2 separate regions of the Homo sapiens genome follow, and region 2 is linked to region 1. Evidence: fine-mapped expression QTL. Tissue or cell type: whole blood. Region 1 holds a variant in brackets; the other region holds the start of a gene. All regions are shown on one strand. Distances are between the middles of the regions.

What was found. PIP is the estimated chance that this variant, and not a neighbour inherited with it, causes the effect.
Region 2: it holds the start of CYP2D6, and the variant in region 1 is fine-mapped to the expression of CYP2D6 in whole blood (TOPMed, PIP above 0.99).

The regions. Positions count from the first base shown.
Region 1 is chr22:42,203,091-42,211,275 of GRCh38, reverse strand. TCF20 (transcription factor 20) reads left to right here. Exons shown (of 6, transcript NM_001378418.1): 2 at 1-1,625. Among named protein-coding and RNA genes, the nearest start is that of TCF20, 63 kb to the left of the region's middle. The variant C/T (reference allele first, on the strand shown) is at 3,694.
Region 2 is chr22:42,126,984-42,135,155 of GRCh38, reverse strand. CYP2D6 (cytochrome P450 family 2 subfamily D member 6 (gene/pseudogene)) reads left to right here and starts at 4,346. Exons shown (of 9, transcript NM_000106.6): 1 at 4,346-4,544; 2 at 5,247-5,418; 3 at 5,971-6,123; 4 at 6,212-6,372; 5 at 6,806-6,982; 6 at 7,173-7,314; 7 at 7,522-7,709; 8 at 8,164-8,172. The coding sequence starts at 4,365. RefSeq lists a cis regulatory region at 3,050-3,061 and promoters at 2,755-4,287, 3,874-4,340.

The sequences.
Region 1 (8,185 bases):
CACGGAAAGGACGGGGATTGAAATTGGAAGCTATAGTTCAGAAGATTACATCCCCAAATATTAGGAGGAGCGCATCTTCGAACAGTGCGGAGGCTGGGGGAGACACGGTTACGCTTGATGATATACTGTCTTTGAAGAGTGGTCCTCCTGAAGGTGGGAGTGTTGCTGTTCAGGATGCTGACATAGAGAAGAGAAAAGGTGAGGTGGCTTCGGACCTAGTCAGTCCAGCAAACCAGGAGTTGCACGTAGAGAAACCTCTTCCAAGGTCTTCAGAAGAGTGGCGTGGCAGCGTGGATGACAAAGTGAAGACAGAGACACATGCAGAAACAGTTACTGCCGGAAAGGAACCCCCTGGTGCCATGACATCCACAACCTCACAGAAGCCTGGTAGTAACCAAGGGAGACCAGATGGTTCCCTGGGTGGAACAGCACCTTTAATCTTTCCAGACTCAAAGAATGTACCTCCAGTGGGCATATTGGCCCCTGAGGCAAACCCCAAGGCTGAAGAGAAGGAGAACGATACAGTGACGATTTCACCGAAGCAAGAGGGTTTCCCTCCAAAGGGATATTTCCCATCAGGAAAGAAGAAGGGGAGACCCATTGGTAGTGTGAATAAGCAAAAGAAACAGCAGCAGCCACCGCCTCCACCCCCTCAGCCCCCACAGATACCAGAAGGTTCTGCAGATGGAGAGCCAAAGCCAAAAAAACAGAGGCAAAGGAGGGAGAGAAGGAAGCCTGGGGCCCAGCCGAGGAAGCGAAAAACCAAACAAGCAGTTCCCATTGTGGAACCCCAAGAACCTGAGATCAAACTAAAATATGCCACCCAGCCACTGGATAAAACTGATGCCAAGAACAAGTCTTTTTACCCTTACATCCATGTAGTAAATAAGTGTGAACTTGGAGCCGTTTGTACAATCATCAATGCTGAGGAAGAAGAACAGACCAAATTAGTGAGGGGCAGGAAGGGTCAGAGGTCACTGACCCCTCCACCTAGCAGCACTGAAAGCAAGGCGCTCCCGGCCTCGTCCTTTATGCTGCAGGGACCTGTTGTGACAGAGTCTTCGGTTATGGGGCACCTGGTTTGCTGTCTGTGTGGCAAGTGGGCCAGTTACCGGAACATGGGTGACCTCTTTGGACCTTTTTATCCCCAAGATTATGCAGCCACTCTCCCGAAGAATCCACCTCCTAAGAGGGCCACAGAAATGCAGAGCAAAGTTAAGGTACGGCACAAAAGTGCTTCTAATGGCTCCAAGACGGACACTGAGGAGGAGGAAGAGCAGCAGCAGCAGCAGAAGGAGCAGAGAAGCCTGGCCGCACACCCCAGGTTTAAGCGGCGCCACCGCTCGGAAGACTGTGGTGGAGGCCCTCGGTCCCTGTCCAGGGGGCTCCCTTGTAAAAAAGCAGCCACTGAGGGCAGCAGTGAAAAGACTGTTTTGGACTCGAAGCCCTCCGTGCCCACCACTTCAGAAGGTGGCCCTGAGCTGGAGTTACAAATCCCTGAACTACCTCTTGACAGCAATGAATTTTGGGTCCATGAGGGTTGTATTCTCTGGGCCAATGGAATCTACCTGGTTTGTGGCAGGCTCTATGGCCTGCAGGAAGCGCTGGAAATAGCCAGAGAGATGGTGAGTATGAGAAATCTCTTACCAGCTTGGGATTTTTATTTCATTTGGTTCCTTTTCTTGCATGTTTTTGTTCTTACATGTCACATGATTATTCCTCCAAATTAAAGTGCCTATGCCCATGTGATGGACAGAAAATGAAATAGGTAATTTGGAAGATTTGTATAGACTTCTAAAATCGTTTTTCATTTTTTGAAATGTATAATGCTTATGAAGCATATTATTATATTTCAAGTTTCTTGGGCCACATCTTTTCTAACGCACACTTTCCAGTTAGGATATTTATTCTTTGGATCTGTTTCATAACTTATCCTGGGGCAGATCATCAACATCATCATCTTCATTTCTTTCTCTCCTCTATTGAATGTTCTGTTTCCTGAATCCCATTTCTTCCTCATTCTTAAAGTGAGCCTTCATTTAAGGGCGTGCATCATCCTTTAGTAGTTTTGTGAGAAAGGGTGTGTGGGAGTGTAAAAATGTTGAGATCCTATATATCTGAGCATGACTTTATCCTAGCCTCATGCTTAATTGAGAGTTGGCTAGGTGTGGAATTCTAGATTGGAAGTGATTTTTCTCTCACTGTCTTGCAGTCGTTCTTCCTGGTTTGTCCACTAGCTTCCAGTGCTGCAGTTGAGAAGACTGCCATTCTAATTTTTCATCCCTTGATGCATGTTCTGTTTTTCTTCTGGAAAGTTTGAGGATCTTCTCCTTTTCCCTAGGGTCTTGAGATGTCAAAATGATAGGTCTTGACTAGGTCATTTCATGGTTGTGTTGGCTACTCTATGAGATCTTATGTACGCTGATGTCTTTCAGTTCAGGCAATTTGTCATGTGGTAGTTCTTTGAAAATTTCCTTCCCTCTATTTTCTCTGCTCTCTTTATAATTCCTGTTAATATAAGGCATTTTACCTCCTGGATTGATCCGCTGTTTTTATCTTTTCTCCTCTGTTTTATGTTTTATCTCATTATCTTTTTGTTCTGATTTCTCTATGCTTTCTTCAGCTTTATCATCTAATCTTTTTTGTATGTGGGTTTTGTTTTGGTTTTGTTTTGTTTTGTTTTGTTTTGTTGTCACTCAGGCTGGAATGCAGTGGTGCGATCACAGCTTACTGCATTCTCGAACTCTGGGGCTCCCTGGTACCTGGGACTAAAGGTGTGTGCCACCATGCCCAGCTAATATTTATATTTTTTGCAGAAACAAGGTCTCACTGTGTTGCCCAGAGTGGTCTCAAACTGCTGGACTCAAGCAATCCTTCCACTTCGGTCTTCTAAAGTACCAGGATTATAGGCATGTGCCACAAGCCACAGTGCCCAGCCTTCTAGCCTTTTATTTACTTATTTTTTTTCTTGATATTTTGAAGAGCTTTTTTTTTCTCTGAATGTACTGACTTTTAAAGAATAATCAGAGCCTAGTTGATGGCTATAATCGTTTCTCTTGCTTTTTGAATACATTATAACGTATTTTTTGTTTTTGTTTTTGTTTCAGTTTCATGCCCTTACCCAGGCTGGAGTGCAGTGATGTGATGATGGCTCACTGCAGCCTCCAACCACTGGGCTCAAGGGATCCTCCCAAGTAGCTGGACCACAGGTGCATGCCAGTACACCTGGCTAAGTTTTTTACTTTTTGTAGAGACAGCATCTCACTTTGTTGCCCAGGCAGGCTGGTCTCACCACCTGAGCTTAAGCAATCCTCCCACGTCAGCCTTCCAAAGTGCTGGAATTACAGGCGTGAGCCACTACACTTGGCCTGTACTATAATTTTTAAAAATCTTTGTCTGTTTCCTATTTTCTCTTTCTTGTTAGAGGTTCTTCAGATGTCTTGATTTTTTTTTCTTTATTGAGATGGGGTTTCGCTCTTGTTGCCCAGGCTGGAGTGCAATGGCGCAATCTCAGCTCACCGCAACCTCCGCTTCCCAGGTTCAAGCGATTCTCTTGCCTCAGCCTCCTGAGTAGCTGGGATTAGAGGCATGCGCCACCATGCACAGCTAATTTTGTATTTTTAGAAGACATGAGGTTTCTCCACGTTGGTCAGTCTGGTCTCGAGCTCCTGACCTCAGGTGATCCGCCCACCT[C/T]GGCCTCCCAAAGTGCTGGGATTACAGGCTTGAGCCACTGCACCCAGCCTTGATTTATATTTTTAAGAGAGAAAGAGATGTTTTAAAAAATGACTTGAAGCTCTCTGTTACAGTATGGGCCAGGCTTGCTAGCCTGTAGTCCTCTCCGTAGAATAATAAGGCAGCCAGCCAGCATATGGGTCTTTTTTCTGAGTTGAGTTTTCCCAGAGGAAAAAAAAACATTTTTTTTTTTGTTCCAGAGAAAAATCTTGAGATTTCCTGTCTAGAGATGCAAGCTTGGCTGCCAGCGTCCTAAAAGCCAAGTGGAGAAGAGGATGGTAGGGTTGTGTGGGTGGGGATATGGGCTCATGATTCAGTGCGCGGACTTTGACAATCTCCCGCCTGTTTTCAGTGGATGAGAACAGTTACCTGGTTGAACTGGGTTAAGGATCTAACTCCTCTTAGAAACTTTGGGCTAATGCTCTATTTTTCAGCCCCATGTTGCACCCCCACTTACTGAGGCCTCCCCAAGCTCTGTGCCCTAAAGTGGCTGGCTTTCTGGGGGCTCCTCCACTGCACTCATCATTACTGTCTGCTTCCTTGCAGTGCACAGAATCACTGTCACTCACTTCATCTCTCATGTTTCCAGCTTCCCATTGCTCATGGTGTCATGAGTTTATCTTGCAAGTTTATCCACTTTTTCGTGGGAAGGGATCAGATGGATGTACAACTGTATGTTTAGTAGTCTACCATATTATTTATAACCTTCTGGCAAAAAGAAGTGCCCATAGACTATAGTAAAAATTATATTGAATGTGAAATATATATTTGAAATTAGAACATTTTAATTCAGTCATGCAAGGAGCTTGCCCTTTACTCTTATCATGTCCCCTATCTCCCAATTACGGTCTTTTCTTTGTGCCTCCTTCCCTGTCTCCATTATTAACATCACGGTGAAACTCCAAGTTTGAGGTAGAAGATTCACTTCCCCTAAGAAGTTTATACACAATGACATTTTAAAATGCAAAGATCCTAGGAGGATGTAACATTTAAGACCCTCAAGTACAAAATTCTTTAGTCAAATTTGAGCGCTCAAAATAATCCGTTAATCATCCTCTTGTCAAAGTTGAGTTCTTGCTTCCCAACTTTCCTTGGAAAGTCACAGTATTTGGTGGGTTTTTTGTTGTTTGTTTTTTGAGACAGAATCTCACTTTGTTGTGGGGTTTCACCATGTTGGCCAGGCTGGTCTGGAACTCCTGACCTCAGATCATCCATCTGCCTTGACCTCCTAGAGTGTTGGGATTACAGGTGTGGGTCACTGCGCCCAGCCTGTTTATTGCTTTTTGATGTGCATATGTGTATGTGACCATCTGACAGTGTTTTCGTTATTTCAACATTTATTATTAACATATCTCAGCCCAGTTTTTTTGTGTAAACTTTTAGGTGTTCTATAGCAATAATTGATAATCAGTAATCAGGCTAAATCTTCCCCAGCAAATCTCTAGATCCTGTGTCTCAATTCAGGTCTTGGGCCGAGCATGATGGCTCACGCCTGTAGTCCCAGCACTTTGGGAGGCCGAGGTGGGCAGATCGCCTGAGGTCAGGAGTTCAAGACCAGCCTGGCCAACATGGTCAAACCCCGTGTCTACTAAAAATATGCAAAAATTAGCTGGACATGGTGACAGGCACCTGTAATCCCAGCTACTCGGGAGGCTGAGGCAGGAGAATGGCTTGAGCCTAGGAGACGGAGGTTGCAGTGAGCCAAGATGGTGCCACTGCACTCTAGCCTGGGCGACTGAGTGGGATTCAATCTCTAAAAAAAATAAGAAAAAAGTTAGGCTTGTTGTCTCTTTGAGCTGATGTACCACTATCACTATAAGATCCGTTTCTAGCTTTTATTTACCTAGCTTTTATTCTACTTTTCTCAGTGCACTCAAGGACAAATTAAAATTACACTAACTTGCCTTTTATTTAATTTGACAGATGATGTTTCAATTGTCCAGGATACTTTGAGTCTAGTTTTATCTTACTAGGTTTTAGCAGATAGATGCATTCAGTTTTGGTCTTGCTTAATGAGCATGCCCTTAATCCTATCATGTAAGATAAAGTCACATATATTTCATTAGAGATCCATTTTGGCCTATGTATTTATCAGGTGTTTTGACAAGCACGATGTTATATTAAAATATTGGGAAGTCCTCAAGAGACATTGCTCCTCTCCCTGTGTCACACTACTCTGAAAATTGCCGAAAACTAGAACATTTCTATATTTAAAAATGGTGTTTACTTCCCTTCCTTTTTCCCTTCCTTTTTCCCTTCCCACAAGTGTGGGACTTGTGAATCTATTCATTTCAGCACAAGTCCCCTTTGCTTCTGTCCAACATTGACCACTGTTTGCCTTGGTATAATTGTGTATGAGAATCACAATGACCTCTGACATGAATGATATTACAGAGGTAATTGCCTCTGAATGGGTATGGATATAACTTGGTATGTACAAATCACCTTTGAGACATTAAGGAATGCCAAGGCGTGCAGGGATGTGACAGAAGGTAGATCTGGTGGCCATGGATCCCTTGAGGCTGGATAGCCCTACTAGTGGGGGAGTCGGGGAGTCTTTGCTTGTTCCCCTCTCATAGAAGGTGCCCCTCCCAAATTTTTCCAACCCCCCTTGGGAAACTTTTAATCTTTTTTTTTTACCTGACAGTATATGTTAACTGGTTTTAGGTTAATTTTTATTTTCTATTTTTATTTTTATTTTGAGATGAGTCTTGCTCTGTTGCCAGGCTGGAGTGCAGTGGCACAATCTTGGCTCACTGCAACCACCTCCTCGTGGGTTCAAGTGACTCTCCTGCCTCAGCCTCCCAAGTAACTGGGACTGCAGTCATGCACCACCACACCTGGCTAATTTTTGTATTTTTAATAGAGACAGGGTTTCACCATGTTGGCCAGGCTGATCTCAAACTCCTGATCTCAAGTGATCCACCTGCCTCAGCCACCCAAAGTGCTGGGATTACAGGCCTGAGCCACTGTGCCTGGCCAATTTTCTTTAAATTTCTGAATCAATATATTAAAGATTATATTTAGGGTTTTTTTTCCTTGATTTTTTGAGACAGGGTCTCACTCTGTTGTCCAGGCTGGAGTGCAGTGGCATGATCTCGGCTCACGGCAACCTCCGCCTCCTGTATTCAAGTGATTCTCCTGTCTCAGCCTCCCCAGTAGCTGGAATTACAGGTGCGTGCCACCACACCCAGCTAATTTTTGTATTTTTAGTAGAGACGGGATTTGAGGATGTTGGCCAAGCTGGCCTTGAACTCCTGACCTTAAGGAATCCACCCTCCTCGGCCTCCCAAAGTACTGGGATTATAGGTGTGAGCCACTGCACCTGGCCAGTTTAGGGGCTTATTTTTAATACAAGTTTAAATAATGGATAATTATTTACTTCCCCCATCTAACAGACTCACATCTTTCTTAAATTTACTTTAAATTGTGATGGAAAACATGATTTGGAAAATATAAAATAGATTGATTACATTATGAAAATGAAATCACATATTAAAACATCAAAACAGCCAAGTCAGAAAGGTAGGCTCTCTAGTTTAACTGTAAAATAGAGCCACCAGTCTACATGCTCTCTAAATTCTCAACTATATGTTCCTTGAAGGTGGTCATTTCCAGGGCCTGGCAAGGCCCCCATCCTGGTGAAGGCTCCCTTCAACTCCTGTTCTCTGCTCCTAACTCCAGTACCTCACCCCCACCCCTACCTGATTGTTCTTCCTCTGTGCTTGCTACAACTGCCCTTTCTCACATTCCCACACTCCCTTTCTCCATTCTCCTCTCCCTCCCAGCCCCCTCTCTCTGGCAAGCACTTGCTTTTTGTTACTTCTGCTGGGACCCATCTTCATTTCTCACTCTCTAGGCGGTGGCGCCCTGTTCCCATGGCTTTCAGTATATAGCAGAGACTTGTATCTAATTTACCTGTTTTTCTTAACACTGTGTGGTATATCTTTTTATATCACTGCATGATGACATTGACACTAAATTTCCAGAGAAAAGGTTCATTTTCTTTCAGGATTTCGTCCAAATTCTAAGGAATCAAGTGAAATTTTCAGTTTTGAATTTTATTGCATATATTACCTTACAGAATAAATCATGACAAATTGAAGGACTCAAATTTTACTACGATTTATTTCTTGACTTTTTTTTTCTCTCTAGAGGTAGGGGGATGATGTGGGGAGCATTACACTTGATTTTAAAGTAAAATTTATAAGGAGTACACGATTCTTTGGCCAAGGCTGGGCAAGGTGGCTTATGCTTGTAATCCTAGCACTTTGGATTACCTGAGCCCAGGAGTTTGAGACCAGCCTGGGCAACATGGAGAAACCCTGTCTCTACCAAAAATACGAAAATTAGCCAGTCTTAATGACCTAGTCTCAAAATAAATAAGTAGAGAAAAATATTCAAAAAAATCCCAAAGGACCATAAACAAAAATATTGATAAACAAGCCACAAC
Region 2 (8,172 bases), 76 kb after region 1:
ATGATTGAAAATCGAAGCTGCCTGTGGTGATGGATAACAGCTGGGGTTAAAAAGCAGCAGCTGGGGCATGAGCGGTCCACAGTGAGTTTTTGTTGTTTTTGTTTTTTTGGGTGGGGGATGGGGTCTTGCTAGGTCTCAAACTCCTGGCCTCAAGTCATCCTCCCATTACAGCCTTCTGAGTCACTGACACTACAGGTGTGAGCCACCATGTCCAGCTTGTAGTGGTTTTGAACAGCTCTTGCCCCTTCTTGGGAATCTAGGTGCCCTGCACGTGGGTAAGGCTGTCTGCAGCTGTGCCCATATTCAGGAAGGCCGGCAAGGCCCTGAGCCCTCACACGTGACTGACCTGAGGTGCTGTGCAGACAGCAGGTGACGGCTAAGGGAAAGTTGAGCACTGCCTAGCCGAGCACTGAAGCCACGCCCGGCACACAGAGAGAGACCCACTCGGCAAAGACTTCGCTTCCAGGCACCTAAGGAACTCTCTGACCAGTCATTAGCTGACCACTGCCGTAACTGAAGAGCGGCTTCAGTGGCCACAGCTCGCAGGGAATGGAGACATTAATGCTTAGTCAGAATTAGTTCAGAAAAGTCACCCAGCAAAGAAACAGCTCCAACAGGCAACAACAACAACACATCCTTGGCAGGGAAGAGAATCTGACTTCCGGAGTTGCCACATTATCGCCCGTGAAATGTCCAGGTTTTAACAAATTATGAGACATGGAAAGGAAACCGAAAGGACGACCCAGACACGGGAAAAGTCACCAATGGGACCAGCCCGATGCTGCAATTGCTAGACAAAGACGTTCAGTCAGCTCATTTAAATATGTTCAAAGACCTAAAACATGCTGCATCTGAGGCTGCACCGGCTGGAACCTGCTGATCTCGGAAGCTAAGCATGGTCAGGCCTGGCTAGTACTTCAAAGGGAGAAACCACGTGTAGGCCTGGTGCAGTGGCTCACACCTATAATCCTAGCACTCTGGGAAGCTGAGGCCCGTGGATTGCTTGAGCCCAGGAGTTTGAGAGCAGCTTGGGAAATGTGGTGAGACCCCCATCTCTACAAAAAAATTTAAAAAATTAGCTGGCTGCCTATGGTCCCAGCCTCTCAGGATGCTGAGGTAGGAGGATCACTTCAGCCCAGGAAGTTGAGGCTGCAGTGAGCCATGACTGCATCACTGCACTCCAGCTTGGGCGACAGAGAGACCCTCTCCCAAGAAAAAGAAAAGAACCATGTCAAAAGAACTAACGAAAGTGTGGGAACAATGTCTCACCAATTAGAGAATATCAATAATGGGATGAACCTTATAAAAAGGGGCTGGGCATGGTGGCTCATGCCTATAATCCCAGCACTTTGGGAGGCTGAGGCGGGCATATCATGAGGTCAAGAGATTGAGACCAGCCTGGCCAACATGGTGAAACCCCGTCTCTACTTAAAATACAAAAATTAGCCGGGCGTGGTGGCACGTGCCTGTAATCCCAGCTACTCGGGAGGCTGAGGCAGGAGAATCGCTTGAACCCGAGAGGCAGAGATTGCAGTGAGCCGAGATTGCACCACTGCACTACAGCCTGGGTGACAGAGCGATACTCCAAAAAACAAAACAAAACAAAAAACAAAAAAAAAGTTTAAAAAGGAACCAAATAAAAATTCTGGAGTTGTAGGGTAAAATAAATGAAAATTCATCCCAGGGGCCCAAGAGCAGATTGGAACAATTGGAAGAAAGAGCCTGTGACTATGGAGAGAGGCCACCTGAGGTAGTACCCTCTGAGGAACAGGAACAAGCATGAAGAGCAATGCACAGAGATCCAGAGACCTGGAGACGCCGTCAAGCTTTCCGACATACACGCAATGGGAGTCCCAGGAAAGAAGACAGGGAGAAAGGAGTAAAGGAATAGTTGAAGAATTAATGGCTGAAAAACCTCCCAAATCTGATGAAAAATATTAATCTGTACATCCAAAAAGCTCATCAAACTCCAAGTAGGGTAAACTCAAAGAGATCTTCAGCCATACGCATCATCATAATCACTGTCAAAAGACAGATTTTTCTTTTTTTAGAATTTTAAATGTACCTTTTAATTTGCTCCTGGGGCAAAGAGCCAGGACTGGTACTAGAGCAGTGTCTGGGATGAGAAGAATTTAATAAAATGGGATTAGGTCCAATGGTTGGGTTAGGGGAGGCAACCTGCTCGGGAGGATCAGCCTCAACCTATCCATGCAGCAGGGCCTCCACCTGTCCCTCTCCGTAGTCCCACACCTGGAACCCAGAGCCATCTGCCTCTTCCCAGATCATGGCCGACAGCACTCCACCAGACTGCGGCTGGAGCAGGCACAGGATTCACTTATTGAGGGCTGTGGCCTGGCACAGATCATAGCCTATACCCAGGGACAGTTGTGTCACTTCTGCCACCACCACATCCGCCTTCTGCAGCCACATCAAGTACCACTCATGGATGAGCCCGTCACCCCCAGCGGACTTATCAACCCCGCGTCCAGCTCCACAGCCGCCACGTGCTCGGTGAGCACTGGCTCCAAGCATGGCAGCTGCCATACAATCCACCTGTAGAGGGCCCGGTCCTCCTGTCCTCAGTGGATGATCCCGTAGAAGTCCAGAGCTCGGCAGCTGCCCTCCCACAAAAGACAGGATTTTGAAAGCAGCAAGAGAGAAGAGACGTATCAGGTAGTCACAGTGGCTCAGGCCTGTAATCCCAGCACTTTGGGAGGCCCAGGTGGGAGGATCGCTTCACCCCAGGAATTCAAGACCAGCCTGGACAACTTGGAAGAACCCGGTCTCTACAAAAAATACAAAATTAGCTGGGATTGGGTGCGGTGGCTCATGCCTATAATCCCAGCACTTTGGGAGCCTGAGGTGGGTGGATCACCTGAAGTCAGGAGTTCAAGACTAGCCTGGCCAACATGGTGAAACCCTATCTCTACTGAAAATACAAAAAGCTAGACGTGGTGGCACACACCTGTAATCCCAGCTACTTAGGAGGCTGAGGCAGGAGAATTGCTTGAAGCCTAGAGGTGAAGGTTGTAGTGAGCCGAGATTGCATCATTGCACAATGGAGGGGAGCCACCAGCCTGGGCAACAAGAGGAAATCTCCGTCTCCAAAAAAAAAAAAAAAAAAAAAAGAATTAGGCTGGGTGGTGCCTGTAGTCCCAGCTACTTGGGAGGCAGGGGGTCCACTTGATGTCGAGACTGCAGTGAGCCATGATCCTGCCACTGCACTCCGGCCTGGGCAACAGAGTGAGACCCTGTCTAAAGAAAAAAAAAATAAAGCAACATATCCTGAACAAAGGATCCTCCATAACGTTCCCACCAGATTTCTAATCAGAAACATGGAGGCCAGAAAGCAGTGGAGGAGGACGACCCTCAGGCAGCCCGGGAGGATGTTGTCACAGGCTGGGGCAAGGGCCTTCCGGCTACCAACTGGGAGCTCTGGGAACAGCCCTGTTGCAAACAAGAAGCCATAGCCCGGCCAGAGCCCAGGAATGTGGGCTGGGCTGGGAGCAGCCTCTGGACAGGAGTGGTCCCATCCAGGAAACCTCCGGCATGGCTGGGAAGTGGGGTACTTGGTGCCGGGTCTGTATGTGTGTGTGACTGGTGTGTGTGAGAGAGAATGTGTGCCCTAAGTGTCAGTGTGAGTCTGTGTATGTGTGAATATTGTCTTTGTGTGGGTGATTTTCTGCGTGTGTAATCGTGTCCCTGCAAGTGTGAACAAGTGGACAAGTGTCTGGGAGTGGACAAGAGATCTGTGCACCATCAGGTGTGTGCATAGCGTCTGTGCATGTCAAGAGTGCAAGGTGAAGTGAAGGGACCAGGCCCATGATGCCACTCATCATCAGGAGCTCTAAGGCCCCAGGTAAGTGCCAGTGACAGATAAGGGTGCTGAAGGTCACTCTGGAGTGGGCAGGTGGGGGTAGGGAAAGGGCAAGGCCATGTTCTGGAGGAGGGGTTGTGACTACATTAGGGTGTATGAGCCTAGCTGGGAGGTGGATGGCCGGGTCCACTGAAACCCTGGTTATCCCAGAAGGCTTTGCAGGCTTCAGGAGCTTGGAGTGGGGAGAGGGGGTGACTTCTCCGACCAGGCCCCTCCACCGGCCTACCCTGGGTAAGGGCCTGGAGCAGGAAGCAGGGGCAAGAACCTCTGGAGCAGCCCATACCCGCCCTGGCCTGACTCTGCCACTGGCAGCACAGTCAACACAGCAGGTTCACTCACAGCAGAGGGCAAAGGCCATCATCAGCTCCCTTTATAAGGGAAGGGTCACGCGCTCGGTGTGCTGAGAGTGTCCTGCCTGGTCCTCTGTGCCTGGTGGGGTGGGGGTGCCAGGTGTGTCCAGAGGAGCCCATTTGGTAGTGAGGCAGGTATGGGGCTAGAAGCACTGGTGCCCCTGGCCGTGATAGTGGCCATCTTCCTGCTCCTGGTGGACCTGATGCACCGGCGCCAACGCTGGGCTGCACGCTACCCACCAGGCCCCCTGCCACTGCCCGGGCTGGGCAACCTGCTGCATGTGGACTTCCAGAACACACCATACTGCTTCGACCAGGTGAGGGAGGAGGTCCTGGAGGGCGGCAGAGGTGCTGAGGCTCCCCTACCAGAAGCAAACATGGATGGTGGGTGAAACCACAGGCTGGACCAGAAGCCAGGCTGAGAAGGGGAAGCAGGTTTGGGGGACGTCCTGGAGAAGGGCATTTATACATGGCATGAAGGACTGGATTTTCCAAAGGCCAAGGAAGAGTAGGGCAAGGGCCTGGAGGTGGAGCTGGACTTGGCAGTGGGCATGCAAGCCCATTGGGCAACATATGTTATGGAGTACAAAGTCCCTTCTGCTGACACCAGAAGGAAAGGCCTTGGGAATGGAAGATGAGTTAGTCCTGAGTGCCGTTTAAATCACGAAATCGAGGATGAAGGGGGTGCAGTGACCCGGTTCAAACCTTTTGCACTGTGGGTCCTCGGGCCTCACTGCTCACCGGCATGGACCATCATCTGGGAATGGGATGCTAACTGGGGCCTCTCGGCAATTTTGGTGACTCTTGCAAGGTCATACCTGGGTGACGCATCCAAACTGAGTTCCTCCATCACAGAAGGTGTGACCCCCACCCCCGCCCCACGATCAGGAGGCTGGGTCTCCTCCTTCCACCTGCTCACTCCTGGTAGCCCCGGGGGTCGTCCAAGGTTCAAATAGGACTAGGACCTGTAGTCTGGGGTGATCCTGGCTTGACAAGAGGCCCTGACCCTCCCTCTGCAGTTGCGGCGCCGCTTCGGGGACGTGTTCAGCCTGCAGCTGGCCTGGACGCCGGTGGTCGTGCTCAATGGGCTGGCGGCCGTGCGCGAGGCGCTGGTGACCCACGGCGAGGACACCGCCGACCGCCCGCCTGTGCCCATCACCCAGATCCTGGGTTTCGGGCCGCGTTCCCAAGGCAAGCAGCGGTGGGGACAGAGACAGATTTCCGTGGGACCCGGGTGGGTGATGACCGTAGTCCGAGCTGGGCAGAGAGGGCGCGGGGTCGTGGACATGAAACAGGCCAGCGAGTGGGGACAGCGGGCCAAGAAACCACCTGCACTAGGGAGGTGTGAGCATGGGGACGAGGGCGGGGCTTGTGACGAGTGGGCGGGGCCACTGCCGAGACCTGGCAGGAGCCCAATGGGTGAGGCTGGCGCATTTCCCAGCTGGAATCCGGTGTCGAAGTGGGGGGCGGGGACCGCACCTGTGCTGTAAGCTCAGTGTGGGTGGCGCGGGGCCCGCGGGGTCTTCCCTGAGTGCAAAGGCGGTCAGGGTGGGCAGAGACGAGGTGGGGCAAAGCCCTGCCCCAGCCAAGGGAGCAAGGTGGATGCACAAAGAGTGGGCCCTGTGACCAGCTGGACAGAGCCAGGGACTGCGGGAGACCAGGGGGAGCATAGGGTTGGAGTGGGTGGTGGATGGTGGGGCTAATGCCTTCATGGCCACGCGCACGTGCCCGTCCCACCCCCAGGGGTGTTCCTGGCGCGCTATGGGCCCGCGTGGCGCGAGCAGAGGCGCTTCTCCGTGTCCACCTTGCGCAACTTGGGCCTGGGCAAGAAGTCGCTGGAGCAGTGGGTGACCGAGGAGGCCGCCTGCCTTTGTGCCGCCTTCGCCAACCACTCCGGTGGGTGATGGGCAGAAGGGCACAAAGCGGGAACTGGGAAGGCGGGGGACGGGGAAGGCGACCCCTTACCCGCATCTCCCACCCCCAGGACGCCCCTTTCGCCCCAACGGTCTCTTGGACAAAGCCGTGAGCAACGTGATCGCCTCCCTCACCTGCGGGCGCCGCTTCGAGTACGACGACCCTCGCTTCCTCAGGCTGCTGGACCTAGCTCAGGAGGGACTGAAGGAGGAGTCGGGCTTTCTGCGCGAGGTGCGGAGCGAGAGACCGAGGAGTCTCTGCAGGGCGAGCTCCCGAGAGGTGCCGGGGCTGGACTGGGGCCTCGGAAGAGCAGGATTTGCATAGATGGGTTTGGGAAAGGACATTCCAGGAGACCCCACTGTAAGAAGGGCCTGGAGGAGGAGGGGACATCTCAGACATGGTCGTGGGAGAGGTGTGCCCGGGTCAGGGGGCACCAGGAGAGGCCAAGGACTCTGTACCTCCTATCCACGTCAGAGATTTCGATTTTAGGTTTCTCCTCTGGGCAAGGAGAGAGGGTGGAGGCTGGCACTTGGGGAGGGACTTGGTGAGGTCAGTGGTAAGGACAGGCAGGCCCTGGGTCTACCTGGAGATGGCTGGGGCCTGAGACTTGTCCAGGTGAACGCAGAGCACAGGAGGGATTGAGACCCCGTTCTGTCTGGTGTAGGTGCTGAATGCTGTCCCCGTCCTCCTGCATATCCCAGCGCTGGCTGGCAAGGTCCTACGCTTCCAAAAGGCTTTCCTGACCCAGCTGGATGAGCTGCTAACTGAGCACAGGATGACCTGGGACCCAGCCCAGCCCCCCCGAGACCTGACTGAGGCCTTCCTGGCAGAGATGGAGAAGGTGAGAGTGGCTGCCACGGTGGGGGGCAAGGGTGGTGGGTTGAGCGTCCCAGGAGGAATGAGGGGAGGCTGGGCAAAAGGTTGGACCAGTGCATCACCCGGCGAGCCGCATCTGGGCTGACAGGTGCAGAATTGGAGGTCATTTGGGGGCTACCCCGTTCTGTCCCGAGTATGCTCTCGGCCCTGCTCAGGCCAAGGGGAACCCTGAGAGCAGCTTCAATGATGAGAACCTGCGCATAGTGGTGGCTGACCTGTTCTCTGCCGGGATGGTGACCACCTCGACCACGCTGGCCTGGGGCCTCCTGCTCATGATCCTACATCCGGATGTGCAGCGTGAGCCCATCTGGGAAACAGTGCAGGGGCCGAGGGAGGAAGGGTACAGGCGGGGGCCCATGAACTTTGCTGGGACACCCGGGGCTCCAAGCACAGGCTTGACCAGGATCCTGTAAGCCTGACCTCCTCCAACATAGGAGGCAAGAAGGAGTGTCAGGGCCGGACCCCCTGGGTGCTGACCCATTGTGGGGACGCATGTCTGTCCAGGCCGTGTCCAACAGGAGATCGACGACGTGATAGGGCAGGTGCGGCGACCAGAGATGGGTGACCAGGCTCACATGCCCTACACCACTGCCGTGATTCATGAGGTGCAGCGCTTTGGGGACATCGTCCCCCTGGGTGTGACCCATATGACATCCCGTGACATCGAAGTACAGGGCTTCCGCATCCCTAAGGTAGGCCTGGCGCCCTCCTCACCCCAGCTCAGCACCAGCACCTGGTGATAGCCCCAGCATGGCTACTGCCAGGTGGGCCCACTCTAGGAACCCTGGCCACCTAGTCCTCAATGCCACCACACTGACTGTCCCCACTTGGGTGGGGGGTCCAGAGTATAGGCAGGGCTGGCCTGTCCATCCAGAGCCCCCGTCTAGTGGGGAGACAAACCAGGACCTGCCAGAATGTTGGAGGACCCAACGCCTGCAGGGAGAGGGGGCAGTGTGGGTGCCTCTGAGAGGTGTGACTGCGCCCTGCTGTGGGGTCGGAGAGGGTACTGTGGAGCTTCTCGGGCGCAGGACTAGTTGACAGAGTCCAGCTGTGTGCCAGGCAGTGTGTGTCCCCCGTGTGTTTGGTGGCAGGGGTCCCAGCATCCTAGAGTCCAGTCCCCACTCTCACCCTGCATCTCCTGCCCAGGGAACGACA